Linked DNA regions of Homo sapiens: region 2 is linked to region 1. The links come from fine-mapping of genetic effects on gene expression. A gene starts in region 1. The other region holds a variant in brackets. All regions are shown on one strand. Distances are between the middles of the regions.

Region 1 (8,248 bases):
TATATATTATATAATTGTATTTACATACAGTCATCCCTTATTATCCATGGGGGATTGGTTCCAGGACTGCCCGTATAACCAAACCAAATCCACACATACTCAAGTCCCATAGTTAGCCCTGAAAAACCCATGAGAAGTAGGCCCTCTGTGTCTGCAAGACCCTGTCTCTGCAAAAATTAAAACAAAAATAAATTAGATGGGTATAGTGGCACATGCCTATAGACCTGGCTACTTGGGAGGCTAAGGCAGGAGGATCGCTTGAGCCCAGGAGTTTAAGACTGCAGGAGCCAGCTGGGCACGGTGGCTCACGCCTGTAATCCCAGCACTTTGGGAGGCTGAGGCGGGCAAATCATGAGGTCAGGAGATCAAGACCATCCTGGCTAACATGGTGAAATCCCATCTCTACTAAAAATACAAAAACTTAGCTGGGCATGGTAGCACACGCCTGTGGTCCTAGCTACTTGGGAGGCTGAGGCAGGAGAATCAAGGCAGCTTGAACTCAGGAGGTGGAGGTTGCAGTGAGCCAAGATCATGCCACTGCACTCCAGCTTGGACAACAGAGTGAGACTCCGTCTCAAAAAAAAAGAAAAAGACTGCAGGAGCCATGATTTCACCACTGTACTACAGTCTGAACAACAAGAGTGAGACTCTGACTCAAAAAAAAAAAAAAAAAAAAAACAGTAAGAAAGAAAAAAAAACAGTAAGAAAGAAAGAAAAAAGTAACGCAGGTCTCCAGGGATGCCTTTATACACAGCTGAACAGGTTTGCAGCTGATAGAGATCTGGGCCTCAGATGGAGACTAATTCAGGAGTCACAAACAGAAAGCTGGTTGTTGAAACCATGAGAACAAAGAGTTGCAGGCTGGAATTACTGGGAGCTAAGTGTCAAATTCAGAGAGACAGATGCAGCAGAATTAGAACTGGAAAATGTGGACTCCCTTTGGAAGGATGATGGTTGCTAGTGACTTCAGTGGGTACAATTTCAATGGCATCGTAGGTAAGGAAGTCAGATGCAAAAAGAAGCAGAGACAGAATAGACTCTCTACCAAGAACTTGGATGAAAGAAAAAGAGAGTAGCTATGAAGGGGGCCAGCTCCATGGCGTTTTTTGTTTGTTTTGCTTTGCTTTGCTTTTTAGGATGAGCTATTTGGGGCATGTTCATAGGCTGTGATAAGGACCTTGCAGAGGGGGCAGGGAGGGCTGCTGAAGCAAGAGCTGAAGAATGGGAGGTCACAGTGAAGAGGCTGGCTCTCCCTGGAAGGAGGAGAGTCTGGAGCAATAAGGTGAGGGTGCATGGGCAGGATCATGCTGTGAGCAGAGGGACCAACTGACCTTTTGTTCCAGGCTCTTTTCAAGAACGTTGGTATAGGCCAGGTGCAGTGGCTCACGCCTGTAATCCCAGCACTTTGGGAGGCCGAGGCGGGCGGATCACGAGGTCAGGAGATCGAGTTCATCCTGGGTAACATGGTGAAACCCCATCTCTACTAAAAATACAAAAAATTAGCCAGATGTGGTGGCGGGCGCCTGTAGTCCCAGCTACTTGGGAGGCTGAGGCAGGAGAATGGCGTGAACCCGGGAGGTGGAGCTTGCAGTGAGCCGAGATCGTGCCACTGCACCCCAGCCTGGCGACAGAGCGAGACTCTGTCTAAAAAAGAAAAAAAAAAAAAAAGATTGTTGGTACAGCAGACTGCCTTGGAAGATAAAGATAGTGCCTCCCTCTGGAGCAGAGGGCAGATTTCCTCACTATCCAACGTAATAAAGATAATGTCTCCCTCTTGGACAAGAGCAGGTTTGCTTGCAGCCCATTATAAAAGATTCTGGTTTCCTTATCTCAGGGATTCTCAGCTGTGCTGCAAACCCATTGTGTGTGCAACACTCACCTGGGCCTCTCTGTATCACTCTCATGGGGCTTGAGGAGTAAAGAGAAGTGACACAAACATGATGCCTATGTTGCTTGCTGCACCATGAGTAATAAAGTCCTTTGTCTCTGATCCAGTAGTCTTGTGTCTTCTACCAGCATCCACAGAACTATGGCAGTTTCATTGGTTAGCTTGTAAGGAGAGCAAAATCTGCACAGTTCTTAACAAAAGATGACTTTGAACTTGGGGGCATGGGAAGTTGAAGGTCACTCCTGATGGGCTGCATTTTCTCACAGGTATGGCTGGGAAAAGAGGAGGCTTGAGGAAAGAAGTAAGTTCTAGAATCATTGTTGAGCAGGATAGAAGCTGGAGCTGAGCAAGGATAAGGAAATGGCTGATGTTGAGAGCCAGCTGAGGCCAAACTTGTGTTCCCAATTCACACTCTGGAATGAGCTACACCTGACCCCTGACCCCTGCAGCACTCAGCCAGGCCAGGGACAGGCAGCACAGGAGAGGCAGAGGCAAGAGTGAATCCAGGTCAGAGTTTTGCTGGGAAGAAAGCCAGGAACACAAGAGAATCTGGGTTACTGATGCAGGAGTAGCTCAGATTATAACCCAGGGAGTCCTGCCTAGATAGGAAAGAAAGCTGCTGAGAGAGGGTTGGCCCACTGGGAGAAAAGGGAAGGATGGAGACCCTGGAGGTCCTGTGAGGCTGAAGATGGGAGGAAGGAGAACTCCAGGTGGGTGGATAGGAGATCTTGGTGTGAGGGGAGTACTGCCATTTAAGGCATTGGAGGTGGACCTGGATTATTAACACAGATAGGGGGTTAACTCCCACACAGGAGGAGAGCACCCTCTCCCCAGCTCTTAAGACTGGAGTCCTGAGGCCTGGCGCAGTGGCTCGCACATGTAATCCCAGCAGTTTGGGAGGCCAAGGTGGGCAGATCACCTGAGGTCAGGAGTTTGAGACCAGCCTGGCCAACGTGGTAAAGCCCCCATCCCTACTAAAAATACAAAAAAAAAAAGCTGGGCATGGGGGTGCACTCCTGTAATCCCAGCTACTGGGGAGGCTGAGGCAGGAGAATCGCTTGAACCTGGGAGGTGGAAGTTGCAGTGAGCCGAGATCACGCCTCTGCACTCCAGCCTGGGTAACAGGCTGTTTCAAAAAAAAAAAAAAAAAAAAAGACTAGAGTCCCGGCAGGGAGAGGCTGGGCTGTGTGTGGGGGCCAAGTTTGTAGGTTTGTAAGTGGAAGTTGAATAAATTACTAATGAATGATTCTCCTTTTCTCCATGAAGTAGAGGGTAAGGCACTTACTGAGAGCAAGGGCTAGGAGGGATATTTATGGGCACAGAGAGAAGGTCTGAGGAAATGTGAGAAGCCAGTGATCAGGGGATAAGTAACATCTACAGGAATTTTGACAAGTAAACCCATAAAGATTGAAATGAAAGTCGTGACACCATAAATTCCAAGTAGTGCCCATCTGCGGGGTAGCAAGATGAGTCTGGCTCTGCTGAGCAGTCTTGGGGTGAAGGAAAGAACTGGCCCAATGTGAGTGACCTCCAGTGACCCTGACTTGGTAGGAGTACTGAGACTGGATGGACTGAATGGCCATTCCTGACCACAGGCCCAGGCCCTGGGAGGTTTTCGGGAAGCCTTGCAATCAGACAGGTACCTGTTGCTGCACCCAGACTTCCTCGGATACATGAAGAACAGATTAGAGCCAAAGGCCCGTGACACGGTAGCCTAGGTCCCTCTCATCCTTGCAGCCTGCTGACAGTTGGGAGTCTGGGGCATGTCACAGCCTGCCGCATGTCACAGCTTGCCGAACAGTGGCCACTGAAGCACACCCATCTCATCCATCACTCACTGCCAGGGAGTGTTCCACTTAGAGAGCACGGGTGCTGAGCTTCCCAGCCCTTTCTGATGCTGGAGCCTGCTAGACCAGGGGTCCCCAATCCCAAGCCTGGTCCGAGACCTGTTAGGAACAGGGCATCGCAGCAGGAGGTGAGTGGAGGGGGAAGGAGCATTACCGCCTGAGCTCCGCCTCCTTCAGATCAGCCTCGGCATTAGAGTCTCAAAGGAGTGCGAACCCTTTTGTGAAATGCGCATGCCAGGGATCTAGGTTGCGGGCTCCTTATGAGAGCATCTTAACTCATGCCTGATGATCTGAGGTGGAACAGTTTCATCCCCAACCCCCCCACCCCCACCCCCCTCCGTGGAAAAATTGTCTTCCAGGAAACCAGTCCCTGGTGCCAATAAGTTTGGGAACCCGTTGTGCTGAACATTTCAGGTGGTCTCTCTGACTGGCCTCGTTCTGTGAAAGGAACTCAATGCGATTGAGGGGACTGGCCACCCTGGATGGTTACCAAATAAGCGCTGACAGCCTTAGCTCCCCCACGAAACCCATCACGGCAAGCTCCCCACCTCACCCCCTTTTCCCCCCTCTACCGCCAGCCCAGAGACTGAGCTGTCGGGTTTTGCTCCTCCACCCTGCCCGCCCCCTCCCAGCTGTCCTGGCGTCCGCAGACTGACAGATCTGAGGGTCCTTTGGAGGGAGCCGGGCACATCTCCTCCCGGCCGCCGCCCACCCGCCACAGAGTCTAGAGGCCGAGTGCCGGGCCCGCAGAGGGCAGAGCGCAGCCAGCGCAGCAGGTGGCGGCGTCTACCCGCGCCTAGCTAGCCCCGGACGGCGCGAGGAAAGCGCCCTGCCCAACCCGAGACTGGCGGCCTCCCGGGGCTGGGCTCTGGAGAGAGCGCAGTGGCAGGAGTGGCCGCTGCCGAAGTCCCCCGGGCAGGGGGCAGGGCCAAAGGAGCGCGCGCTCTGGGCGCCGGGACGACACTCCAGCCCCGGGGGACCCGCCGCCCAGCTCCCGAGGGTGCGGCAGCCTCTGGCCACTCAGCCGGGGCCGAGAGGGAGCTGCCGGGCGGGCAGGCGCCGCAGGCACCCGGCGGGCAGGGCGGGGCAGGGCAAGACGGCCGCCTCCGCAAGTGCCACCCGGCCCACCCGGTTCTCTCCCTTCTGCCTGGGACGTCAGCGGACGGGGCGCTCGCGGGCCGGGGCTGTATGGGGCTCCCGCGCGGGTCGTTCTTCTGGCTGCTGCTCCTGCTCACGGCTGCCTGCTCGGGGCTCCTCTTTGCCCTGTACTTCTCGGCGGTGCAGCGGTACCCGGGGCCAGCGGCCGGAGCCAGGTAGGGGCTGCCGAGCGCAGAGCGGGAGGGCGCAGGGGCGACCAGGGCGCGGGGAGGGTCCCCAGCCCAGGGCTCCCCGGCGGCCCGCAGCCCTCAGCCCAACCTCCGCGTGGACCCCTCTGGGGCAGCTCTCAGCGAGGACTCGGCCGCGGCCCTTTGTCGCCAGAACCCTCTCCCAGCCTTGACCTCGCGCTGCCCGGACCCCGCGGCCTTTGCCTGGGTCCAAGGAAGACCTCGCCCCTGTGCACTGGCGACCCGCCCCGGTGCCCCTTGTTGGTGAAGTCCTCCCCGGCCTGATAAGTACACTTTCTATTGTCGAAATCTGGCTGGGTCCCCGAAGCAGATAAAAACTTCCTTTTTTGTCGGGAACTCTCCCTCGGTAACGTCAGATTCTGCTTTTTGGGCAGGGGCCCAAGTCTCCGGTTTCCAACTTCGCGGGGACCCTCCGTCGGGCCGCGGCCAGTCGCCTTTCCCGCCCGCTGCGGTCTCTGTCCGCCCCGCGCCCGCTCCCTTCTCCCCGGCTTCCGCTCGCCGTGTCTGGATAAGCCCAGTGCGGGCGCGATCCGCGAAGAGGCGGGCGCCCGAGGGAAAGAGGGGTGACTCCTGGCTCCATCCGCGTTCTCCTCCCCGCGCCGCGTCCTGCGCTCCACTCCCTCCTCCTCCCTAGGCACTTTCCTGGGTGTCCCACGAGGAGAACCTGGGAGCCGGCCTCTAGCAGGTGGTGGTTCCGGTGACTGAAGAAGCCGCAAAACGATTTCGCTTAGCTTAAGAAAGGCGGACCAAGCCGTGCGAAGTCTGGGTTTGGGAGGAGGGAAGGGCCCGGCAGCCTCAGGGAGAGGCCTCCAGCCCCAGCCTTTCCCTTCCTGGAGCTTTTCCATCTGCGCACCCCCTACCAACCTTGCTGGGGGGCTAACGGGATGAAAACAAAATAAGTATCTGGTCTCCACAGATGCTGTCAAAGGATACACCAAAAGTTGCAGAACAATGTGAAACAGCTTGCCAGTGATCAGGAGTCCAGCACTCTTAGAACAAAGGGTGCTTGCCCCGCCACGGTGACTTAACGCCTGTAGTCCCAGCACTCTGGGAGGCGGAGGTGGGAGGATAGCTTGAGGCCAGGAATTCGAGGCTGTGAGCTGTGATTGCACTACTGCATTCCAGCCTGGTTGACAGAGAGAGACCCTGTCTCAAAAGAAAAGGAATCCTTGTCACTTTTATGTAAAGATGTTTAAAACACAAAGTATCTCAATGCAAAGAAATAATACATGTTTGATATAAGCCTGGGCAACATGGCGAAACCTCGTCTCTACCAAAAATACAAAACTTATCCGGGGATGGTGGTGCATGCCTGTGCTTCCATCTATCTATTCCGGGAGCTGACCAAGAAGATCCCTTGAGTCTGGGAGGTCGAGGCTGCAGTGAGCTGTGATCGCGCCACTGCACTCCAGCCTGGGCAATACAGCAAGGTCCTGTCTCCAGAAAAAAAAAAAAAAGTTCGAGGTGATGGATATGCTAATTAGCTGGTTTGATTATTACACATTACATACACGTATTGAAATATCACACTGTGGCCGGGCGCGGTGGCTCACGCCTGTAGTCTCAGCATTTTGGGAGGCCGAGGCAGGCGGATCACGAGGTCAGGAGATCCTCCTGACCTGGCTTTCACCTGGCTAACACGGTGAAACCCCGTCTCTACTAAAAAATACAAAAAATTAGCTGGGCGTGGTGGCGGGCACCTGTAGTCCCAGCTACTCGGGAGGCTGAGGCAGGAGAATGGCGTGAACCTGGGAGGTGGAGCTTGCAGTGAGCCAAGATCGCGCCACTGCACTCCAGCCTGGTGACAGAGCGAGACTCCATCTCAAAAAAAAAAAAAAGAAATATCACACTGTACCCTATACATATGTGCAAGTATGTGCCAATTAAAAATAATTTTACAAAAAGGAAGAGACCTGATCTAGCAACTCAGCCCCACTCTGCATGTGACGTCCTGCCCCACCAACACCAAGGCCCTCTGGCTGCCCTGGACCACTGCCTATGGGGTAGCCCTGCTCCACAAGGAGCAGAAAAGAAAAAAAAAAAAAAAAGGCCTTCACCAAATGTGGTTCCTCGACCTTGGACTTCCCAGCCTCCATAACTGTAAGAAATGAATTCCTTTTCTTATAAAAATAATCTTTTGGGGACAGTCTCACTCTGTCACCCAGGCTTGCAGTACAGTGGGTCTATCTTGGCTCACTGTAACCTCCACCTCCTGAGCTAAAATGATTCTCCCACCTCAGCCTCCCAAGTAATACATTATCTTCTTTTTTTTTTTGGGACAGAGTCTCCCTCTGTCGCCCAGGCTGGAGTGCAGTGGCCCCATCTCGGCTCACTGCAAGCTCTGTCTCCCGGGTTCATGCCATTCTCCTACCTCAGCCTCCCGAGTAGCTGGGTCTACAGGTGCCCGCCACCATGCCCAGCTGATTTTTTGTATGTTTTAGTACAGACAGGTTTTCACCGTGTTAGCCAGGATGGTCTCGATCTCCTGACCTCGTGATCCGTCCACCTGGGCCTCCCAAAGTGCTGGGATTATAGGCGTGAGCCACCGCGCCCAGCCCCGAGTAATACATTTTTTAAAAAACACAAATTAAAATTGTTTCAGGGTATCTAATAGACTTTAAGTATGAAGTTTACTATACTTCTATTATAATGCAACAATGCTTTTTTAAAAAAAAGATCTTTCCTCTTTTCAAAATGTAGTATGACTCAAGCACCTGGCCCTTTCCTGCTGTTTCTCTGTATTTGCACTGTAGCTTAAACCCCAATGCGGGGCAGGTCAGGACTCAGCCTTGCTGTGGGAGGTGGATATTTAGTCTGGGAGAGAGTGGGAGGTGGACGGCATTCTGGGCAGAGCCGGCAGGCCACATGAGCTTCCCCAGCTTGGGACTGCAAATGGACATGCCTGGCTACAGGGGACAGTCCAGGAAGATGGGCATCTGGGACAGGGTCTACAGAGCCCAAGGAGAGGGCTCTTTAGTGCAGATTAGAGTGGAGCCCAGTCTGGGCATTTCCTCATGGCAGAATCTGGATCAGTGGGTCCCCACATGGGCATTTCTATTAAAAGTTGTTGTTGTTGTTTAATAGGAGAGTGAGAATCAACATAGGGCTGCCAGTTACTATCCATTGTCAACGTTATGTTTTTAAAAAGAGAACATTTTAGGGCTAAG
Region 2 (8,387 bases), 21 kb after region 1:
CAAATCTCCCTCCCAGTCTGGTTTCAAATCCCTCTCTCGAAACCCTTCCCTAACCCCCGCTGTGCCCCCCAAGTCCTCCTTCTACAGCCCTGCCACCTCATCTTCCTATATCGGGCCAATTCAGAACATCCCGTCCTATATCACCCCCTATGTGCCCCGCTTTCTGAAGGAGCCCCCCTTTTTCCAGCCCCCCACAGCACCACTTCCCCAAAACCCATGCTTTGCCTGTCCCTCTCCCTGCCCTGCCCGGAAGCCCCCACCCCCTCCTGACTCACTCTACTTACCTCTCCTTCCCCCGCCCCCCCACCACCCCCAGTTTAACTGCCCCTTCCCAACTCCCCCCGGTCTGTTCATGCCCCCCTCCTCTCTCTCCTACACCCCGCCCGTGGAGGTCCTGGTGAGCGGGAAGCCGCACGTGGTCCCCAACGTACTGCCTGCCACCTTCTACACCCCCTTCTCCCGCTACTACTCCCAGCCCCGCTCCTACCGCTCAGGGTACCGCGGCTACTCCGGCGCCCTGACCCTCCCCTCCATCTCCCCCTTGCAATACGACGGCTCTGGGCGCTCTGTCCACTTCTATCATGGGTCCTAGGCCGCACGCCTATTTTGGACCAGAAGCCTCTGCCAGTAAATTCAAGCTGCTACATCCGGACTTCATCAGCTACCTGACAGAAAGGTACGGAGTGGGGTGCCTGAAGAACAGCGTCCCCTTCCTTCCCCCTTTTACACACCCACCCACATCCAGTCAGCGCCCTCGCACGAGCCCCACGCACTGACCGATAACCAGAGCTCCACTGTCCCGAGTGCTGTGTGCAAAGCACTGTCACTTCATTTACTGTTTTATTTAGCACCTTGATAGAGGGAGGGTGATATATGTCAGTCACCAGGAAATGGACAGGAAACTCAGGATAACTCAAGGAGGTTTATACAAAGGCACAGACTGGGAGCTGGGACCATAAGGTGCACAGCAGCAGTGGCGCCGTCAGCAGCAGGGCATCAGAACCTTCAGGCCCAAACACAGCCAACACAAGGTGCCGGAAGGAACCCGGGGACCAGCCTCAACCCCCTTCCCTCCCTCCTGCCAGGGGTTCTCAATGTGGATGTGCATATGGTCCTCGTCTGGGGTTGTCACAAGGGTGGTGGCGGCAAGTGCCATCAGTGGGTAGAGGCCAGGGATGCTGCTGAACATCACAAGAAGCACCTGGCCCCAAGTGTCAACAGCACTGAGACTGAGAAACCCTGCTGTGGACCAGAGGCTCGAATCCCAGGGCAGGGAGCAGTTGGAGAGGGGTGTGTGGATGTGGGGAGGCAAATGAAGCCCCTCTAATTAGTCCCGTGCTACAGAGGAAGACAGGCTCTGAGAGGTCAGGTGATCGGCCTGGCACAGCTCGATGTGAACTCAGGCCTGAGGGCAGAGCCCGTGGTCACACCCTGGCCTCACTCTTGGACTGTGTGGGTCCGGTCACAGGGTCTGAGCTCCCTGTCCCTCACACGTGATTCCTACTTAATCAAGATGTGGAGTAGAGAGAAACTGCAGTCTCAGGCTAAATAAACAGGCCACCTATGCCCTTGGCAGTGTGGTTACTTAGTAGCTTGGGGTGAAAACAAGCTGTTGCCAAAAGGGGGAACCTGTGGTTCCTTTCTCACCACCCCCTCCCCCAACCTTACCTAAGGTCTCAAAGATCTTTGTATTTAGTCCACTTGGACCGAATAAAGAACTGACTGGAGTAGAAGGCCCTCAGTTTTTGAAGTTTTCCCACCTATTTGAATGTGTAGTTGTGAAGTGTGATGATAGCCATCAAGCTAGTGAGCTGAAATGTCTCTTTTTGCTTCCAGGTTCTTGAAATCAAAGTTGATTAACACACATTTTGGAGACCTATATATGCCTAGTACCGGGGCTCTCATGCTGCTGACAGCTTTGCATACCTGTGACCAGGTAAGAGGCCTTCTCTTCCAGAAGCCCATGCCGGCAGAACACAGGATAACAGAACCCAACAGGATCCCCTGATATCCCTTACCTCGGAGCTGGGACTCTTGGCCTCTGTTCGTGGAATCCCCAGTTCCAAGAGTGCTGCTGGTACTGCTCACTTCCTTGCCCACAACCCTGGGGCCTTTGAAGGACAGGTCCTGGGCCAGCCTTGCCTTGGCTCCGGACACCTGCCTCAGGCTTGCCTTGGCTCCTGACACCTGCCCCAGGCTTCCTTCTTTCACTCTTCTCCAAGGCAGCCACTCAGTATGGTATTTAAGGCTCAAATCATCAAACTGCCCTTGTGAAAGCCAAAGTCCTCAACATACTGGGCCAAATAGGGACATTCTTTTATGGGGACATCCTAGAGCTGGGGTAGGGCAGCAGGTTTAGCCTCCCACATGCAACTACTTTGAAATCACCGTTAAGAGTCATTCCTGATGGGATATGACCCACGTGAAGCTCATGGAGGCAGGGGCCAAGCAGCAGCTTTCAAGGAGAGGCCGTGACCCATGCTAAAGCTGGTATGGAGAGCTGGGGGCCAAATGCCTCTCCACGACTCACACCTAAATCTTTTCCCTCTTTTTTGAGACAGGGTCTCAACTCTGTCACCCAGGCTTAAGTGCAGTGGTGTGATGATCCTCCTGCCTCAGCTTCCCAAGTAGCTGGGTAGCTGGGATCACAGGCATGTACTGCCACGCCCAGCTCTTTTTTTTTTTTTTTACTTTTTGTAGAGACAGGGTCTTACCATGTTGCCCAGGCTGGTCTCAAACTTCCAAGCTCAAGTGATCCTCCCACCTCAGCTTCCCAGTGTTGGGATTACAGGCGTGAGCCACCACACAGGGCCTTTTCCTATTCTGATGCAGGAGTGTCTTGACTGCAGTCCCCAGTTAGGATGGAGAGAGTAGTAATGGGCTTTTGCCTCCACCCTTGAGTTCCAAATCCAGCTCTGGCAATCACCAGCTATGCCAAGTGGGGACACAGTGAGTCACCCCTGAATCCATCTCCCCACTTGCTAAGTGGGAATAAGCCCTAGACCATTATCCTCACCTCAGCAGACGGACACCTTTCTAAACTCATGTCACTTCACCCAAGTGTCTGTACACACTAGACGCTCAACAAATACTAATCCAGCGACTATCCTTGCCCAGGTCAGTGCCTATGGATTCATCACAAGCAACTACTGGAAATTTTCCGACCACTATTTCGAACGAAAAATGAAGCCATTGATATTTTATGCAAACCACGATCTGTCCCTGGAAGCTGCCCTGTGGAGGGACCTGCACAAGGCCGGCATCCTTCAGCTGTACCAGCGCTGACCCCAATGCACTGAGCCCTTTGCTTCTTCAAGAGTTGCGGCCCTGATCCTCTCAAGTGGCCAAAAGCTTTTTTAACTTTTCAATCTTCACCTTCCCTTGCCAACAGAGGGCACTGGGGTGAATTCAAGATTTTCATCGAGGTCTGTTCAATATAGGACACCCCAGCTTGTCCTTGGCTCATCCAAGAACTCTTCTGTATCTAAAACAATACATCTCAATCTTGGCCAAGGGAAAATGGACTGCTTTGCTGGATTGGCACTGAGCAACTTTAGGAAATGTCGGTGGAGTGTTCAGCAAGATCAGACAGCAGTCCAGGTCAAAGGCAAACACACACGCTCCAGCCCAAATCCTCCTGGTGGCACATCCTACCCCAGATGCTAAAGTGATTCAAGGACTCCAGGACACCTCTTAAGAGCCTTTCTAAGAACATGATAGGCTTACTTCTGCTCCATAATAAAGTGGGAGAAAAAAGCCAGAATATAACTTAAGACTAGATAACTGCGTACATGATGGACCATTTTTTTTTTTTTGGCTGGGTAGAGAAATCATATAAAACGCAGGCTGTTTAGCATGGAGATGACTCTCAGAACACTGGGAGGGTCTGGCACTTGATGGGGGTTAGTTGCTTGGCAGCCTGCCTGCCACTGAGGGAAGTCCCATTAGAGATGTATCACCACCTTGTCACCAACAGGATGATGTCACCAGGTAATAAACCTTCATCCTCATATCATGGCGTCAGTAAATTTGAACTCAGCTGACGGTAGTTTCCCAAGTTTATTGTAAGTGGTTTTAAGTTAAGTCTCATCCAAACAAGTTATCACACAGCACTTAACCAAGCCCTGGGATTTACTGTCTTGATGACTACACGGCTTTGCACAGTCTGAGATGCTTCAGTGTGCAAGGCAGCAGCTGGGGGGGAGGAGGGGGGTCTTCACAGGGACAGCTGGCAAGAGACTTCCTGAGGCACATCAG[T/C]TACGTTGGTCAATTTAGGGCACGGTCTGGTTCTGCAGCTTTGAAAGGTGGATTCTTTCTATTAGCACACTTTACAAGAGGGATTGTAAAGGATTAACTCAGTCACCAGAAACGAAACACCACTTCAGAAATTCAGAGACCTCTGATCAACAGAACAGACATTTGGGCTTTAACTGCTAAAGCAGCTACCTACTTGGGGAAACCATGGCATTCTGCTGCCTGGACAGCAGGAATTAAGAGAGATTTCAGAGTTACTGGCACGAGGACAAAGCCTCTCAGCTCGCTTCACCTTGGCAACCTTAAACAGTCCCTCCTTGGTCTCTATGATAGCAGTATGTTCCTTTGGATGGAATACTTGGTTTGGAAATAATGTAGTCAAATGTAGGATATGTAAGTACTCCTCAACAGTCACAATCCATCCTAGTATCTTAAATAGTGATTTTTTTTTTTTAATTTACAAAAGAGGTTTATTGGACTTACAGTTCTACATGGCTGGGAAGGCCTCACAATCATGGCGGAAGGTGAAAGCCACATCTCACATGGCAGCAGATAAGAGAAAAAAAGGTAGTGATCTTTTAGTAAAGAAACCTGAGACTGGTAGTGGGCTTGGAGCCAGAGGATCGCTTAAGTCCGGGAGTTCGAGACCAGCCAGGGTAACAAATTGAGACCCCCCCCCAACTTTAAAATTAAAAAACGAAAGAAAAAATAGCTGGGTGTGGTGGCTCACACCTGTAATCCTAGCACTTTGGGAGGCCAAGGCGGGTGGATTGCCTGAGCTCAGGAGTTTGAGACCAACCTGGGCAACATGGTTGAAACCCTGTCTCTACTAAAACAAAAAAAATCAGCCAGGTGTGGTAGCGTGCACCTGTAGTCCCAGTTACTTGGGAGGCTGAGGCACAAGAATTGCTTGAACCTGGGAGGTAGAGGTTGCAGAGATCATGCCACTGCACTCCCAGCCTGGGTGACAGAGCAAGACTGTCTCAAAAACAACAACAACAACAACAACAAAACAAAACAAAAAAAACCTCTCAAAAAAATGAAAAAAAATTTAAATTTAAATTAAAAAAAAAAATGCTGGGTCTGATGGCTCACACCTGTCATCTCAGCACTTTGGGAAGCTGAGGCAGGCAGATCACAAGGTCAGGAGATAGAGACCATCCTGGCCAACATGGTGAAACCCAGTCTCTACTAAAGAAGGTACGCGCCTGTAGTCCCAGCACTCAGGAGGCTGAGCCAGGAGAATTGCTTGAACCCGGGAGGTGGAGGTTGCAGTGAGCCAAGATTGTACCACTTCACTCCAGCCTGGCGACAGAGTGGAACTCCGTCTCAAAAAATAAAATAAAATAAAATAAAATAAAATAAAATAAAATAAAATAAAGCAAAAATATAAAATGTTAAAAAAAAAACAAAAAAAGGGAAAAAGGAAGCTGATTGCCTTGGTGAGTCAACACTGGGTATTTTCTGACCACTATTTGAAACAAAAAAGGAAACCACTGATATTCTATGCAAAGATCTGTTCCTGGAAGGCACTCTGCGGAGACACCAGGAGAACTTTTATCAATCCTTCATTGATTTGAAGTAAAAGTGCTAAAGCAATGGTTGTGGGTGGCAACCCATTAGCAGATCACAAAATCACTGTAGTGGGTAACTAAACAAGAGGAAACACAAGACGGCATCCTGTGTAACTGGGGTTAAGCATTACTCTCTGAAACTCATGGCATCAGTTTCCTCTTAGGCTCTTCCAACAGAGTATAATCATGTTCATTTCAGTTTACAATCCTTGCAGTCCCATCGATTTGTGAGATTATACCCAGGTCATCCACAGTGGAGGTCTGAAAATGTTCTTAGTTGTACTCTAATTTCACTAACTGCCAAAAGGTTTTCCAGAATAATCTCAGTTGCTTCATTCCTTTAAAGATGAAGCCCAAAGAACGCATGGCGATTACTTTAGAGGAACAATTAGCAGCAGAGGCAGGGCTGTGCTGATCCCATCTGGCATCGCTGGGAGCTAACCTATAAAACAGAAGAATAATTTGAAGTAACAGCCAAGGAAGTGACTCAAAACTGAATGCTATATAACAACTAATTTGGGAGAACAGGCAGTCAGTCCAAGAGCACTCACTCTCACCACCGGCAGGCATGTGCGCGTTGGGGGAGCGTAACGGGGCACTATCACACCATTTTGGTGCAGGCTGGTGGAGATCCAGGATGACTCATTTTAAGGAGACAGTATCTCTGAGGGAGCAGTTTCTGGTAAGAGGCCAGTAAACAACTATCAGAAAGCACTCCCTCTGGATAGAAACATTTCAAGTCAAATCTTATGGTTTACTTGAGTTCTGTAGTCAAGTCCACTCAGCAGACAATAACCACTTGATAAGCTACCCTTTTCACTGTTTTACTTGCAGGCTGTAAACTACTGGGGCCAGTTTTTAGGCTCATTAAATCTCACCCAGAATACAGCTTCTTTGGTGTCCAGCAAAAACACAACCTTAAATACAAAGAGTTTGCACACACCTCCCCTTTCTTTTTTTTTTTTTTTTTTTTGAGACGGAGTCTCGCTCTGTCACCCAGGCAGGACTGCGGACTGCAGTGGCGCAATCTCGGCTCACTGCAAGCTCCGCTTCCCGGGTTCACGCCATTCTCCTGCCTCAGCCTCCCGAGTAGCTGGGACTACAGGCGCCCGCCACCGCGCCCGGCTAATTTTTTTGTATTTTTAGTAGAGACGGGGTTTCACCTTGTTAGCCAGGATGGTCTCGATCTCCTGACCTCATGATCCACCCGCCTCGGCCTCCCAAAGTGCTGGGATTACAGGCGTGAGCCACCGCGCCCGGCCCACACCTCCCCTTTCAACAGAAAAGAAAGGCAATCTGTGTGCACTTCAAGCCTGGCATTCCAGTGGGAACAAAGCTGGGCACCCCACTCTCCAGCACCACTTGGTTTCTTTCTTGCTCACATGCCAGTCGTGACATTCAGACAGGATCTAAGCTACAAACTTAGGAGACCTCCCTGGCGTCCTTAACAAAGCACATAGAAACCAAACAGCCGTGGTTTCCCCTAAATGTCAGGACCCTGGAGCAGAGGCAAGGTCAGAGTCATTAAGCATTCTCATTGCCACAAGCTGGCATACATCCTACATTCCAATCTGTTTCTAAGAGCGCATTCATTTTCTTGAAATATGTAACAAGCACTTTCATTCCACAATAAGGGCATAAATCAAATCCTGGGTACTTGTGCATTCCTGCCACCTCATACAGCCTGTATCCTCAGAGCCATAATCAAAGGACTAGAGAAAGCAGGACAATCACTCATTTGCTTTTCACGTTTTAGAGGAATGATGCTCTAGACTGGGCTCTCAGCAGGATATGCTGAGGGAAAAAAAAAGGGGAAAAAAAACAAAAACAAAAAAAAAACCATGGAGCCAAACCCTTAAGCCTCAGAATAGATTATTTCCCTCAGTCCAGATTTTCAGACAGGGATAACTAACCATCATAGGCTTGTGGGACTTCTTACGGATACGAAAGATGTAAACAAATCTTACAAACAGGAAAGCAATCATTTCACTTGTTTCCGGCAAAGCAGTTCAGTTTCGTCTCTTATTGCAGACACCTAGCAACAAAATGCTACTAAAGTCTCCCTGCCCCCATTGCTTTAAGTCCAGAGCAGGGGAAGCAAAAAAGATTACCACTCCCCCAAACCAAACCAAGCCTGTTTACCAGTTCGTCTACTTACTCACATTAAAGACATGGCACTTTGGGTCCGGGTCCAGGTCCTGGTTCAGAGCAGCTGCCACACCGTGGCTACTAGAGGATCCTTTTCCGGCTTTGGAAACTGAGGCTGACTGCACCTGGGAAGAGAAATTAAGAAAAAAAACTACTTAAGAAGATACACACAGAGTAACTCTCAAGTAACTTAAAATTTCTGTAAGGCAAACTTGGGAAACTGAGTTTCAGATATTCAAATTCCACACAGAAAGGCCTTTCTTTGCCTTCAGACAGGGATAACTTGAAATCATCATGGACTCAGCTCCCACCAACCTGCTGGACCATAGCACTAACAGCCACAGCACACGCAAACTATTTTTTTCTCATCAAATTGTTCACTTCCCTCACGCAAATTCTTTGTGGAGCAAG

The links. PIP is the estimated chance that this variant, and not a neighbour inherited with it, causes the effect.
Region 2: its variant is fine-mapped to the expression of ST6GALNAC2 in whole blood (TOPMed, PIP above 0.99). The same link has a PIP of 0.9 or more in sun-exposed skin and unexposed skin.

The regions. Positions count from the first base shown.
Region 1 is chr17:76,582,484-76,590,731 of GRCh38, reverse strand. It overlaps ST6GALNAC2 (ST6 N-acetylgalactosaminide alpha-2,6-sialyltransferase 2), which reads left to right and starts at 4,872. Exons shown (of 9, transcript NM_006456.3): 1 at 4,872-5,048. The coding sequence starts at 4,924. RefSeq lists enhancers at 3,205-3,885, 3,886-4,567 and silencers at 4,436-4,725, 4,776-5,115.
Region 2 is chr17:76,561,002-76,569,388 of GRCh38, reverse strand. ST6GALNAC2 (ST6 N-acetylgalactosaminide alpha-2,6-sialyltransferase 2) reads left to right here. Exons shown (of 9, transcript NM_006456.3): 7 at 593-676; 8 at 1,837-1,936; 9 at 3,118-4,012. The coding sequence ends at 3,285. It overlaps LOC122455342 (testis-specific serine/proline-rich protein), which reads left to right. Exons shown (of 1, transcript NM_001395979.2): 1 at 1-592. The coding sequence ends at 592. It overlaps SNHG16 (small nucleolar RNA host gene 16), which reads right to left. Exons shown (of 3, transcript NR_038111.1): 2 at 7,991-8,101; 3 at 4,041-6,270. It overlaps SNORD1A (small nucleolar RNA, C/D box 1A), which reads right to left and starts at 7,756; the gene lies at 7,683-7,756. It also overlaps SNORD1B. RefSeq lists enhancers at 1,630-2,130, 2,131-2,631. The variant T/C (reference allele first, on the strand shown) is at 4,258.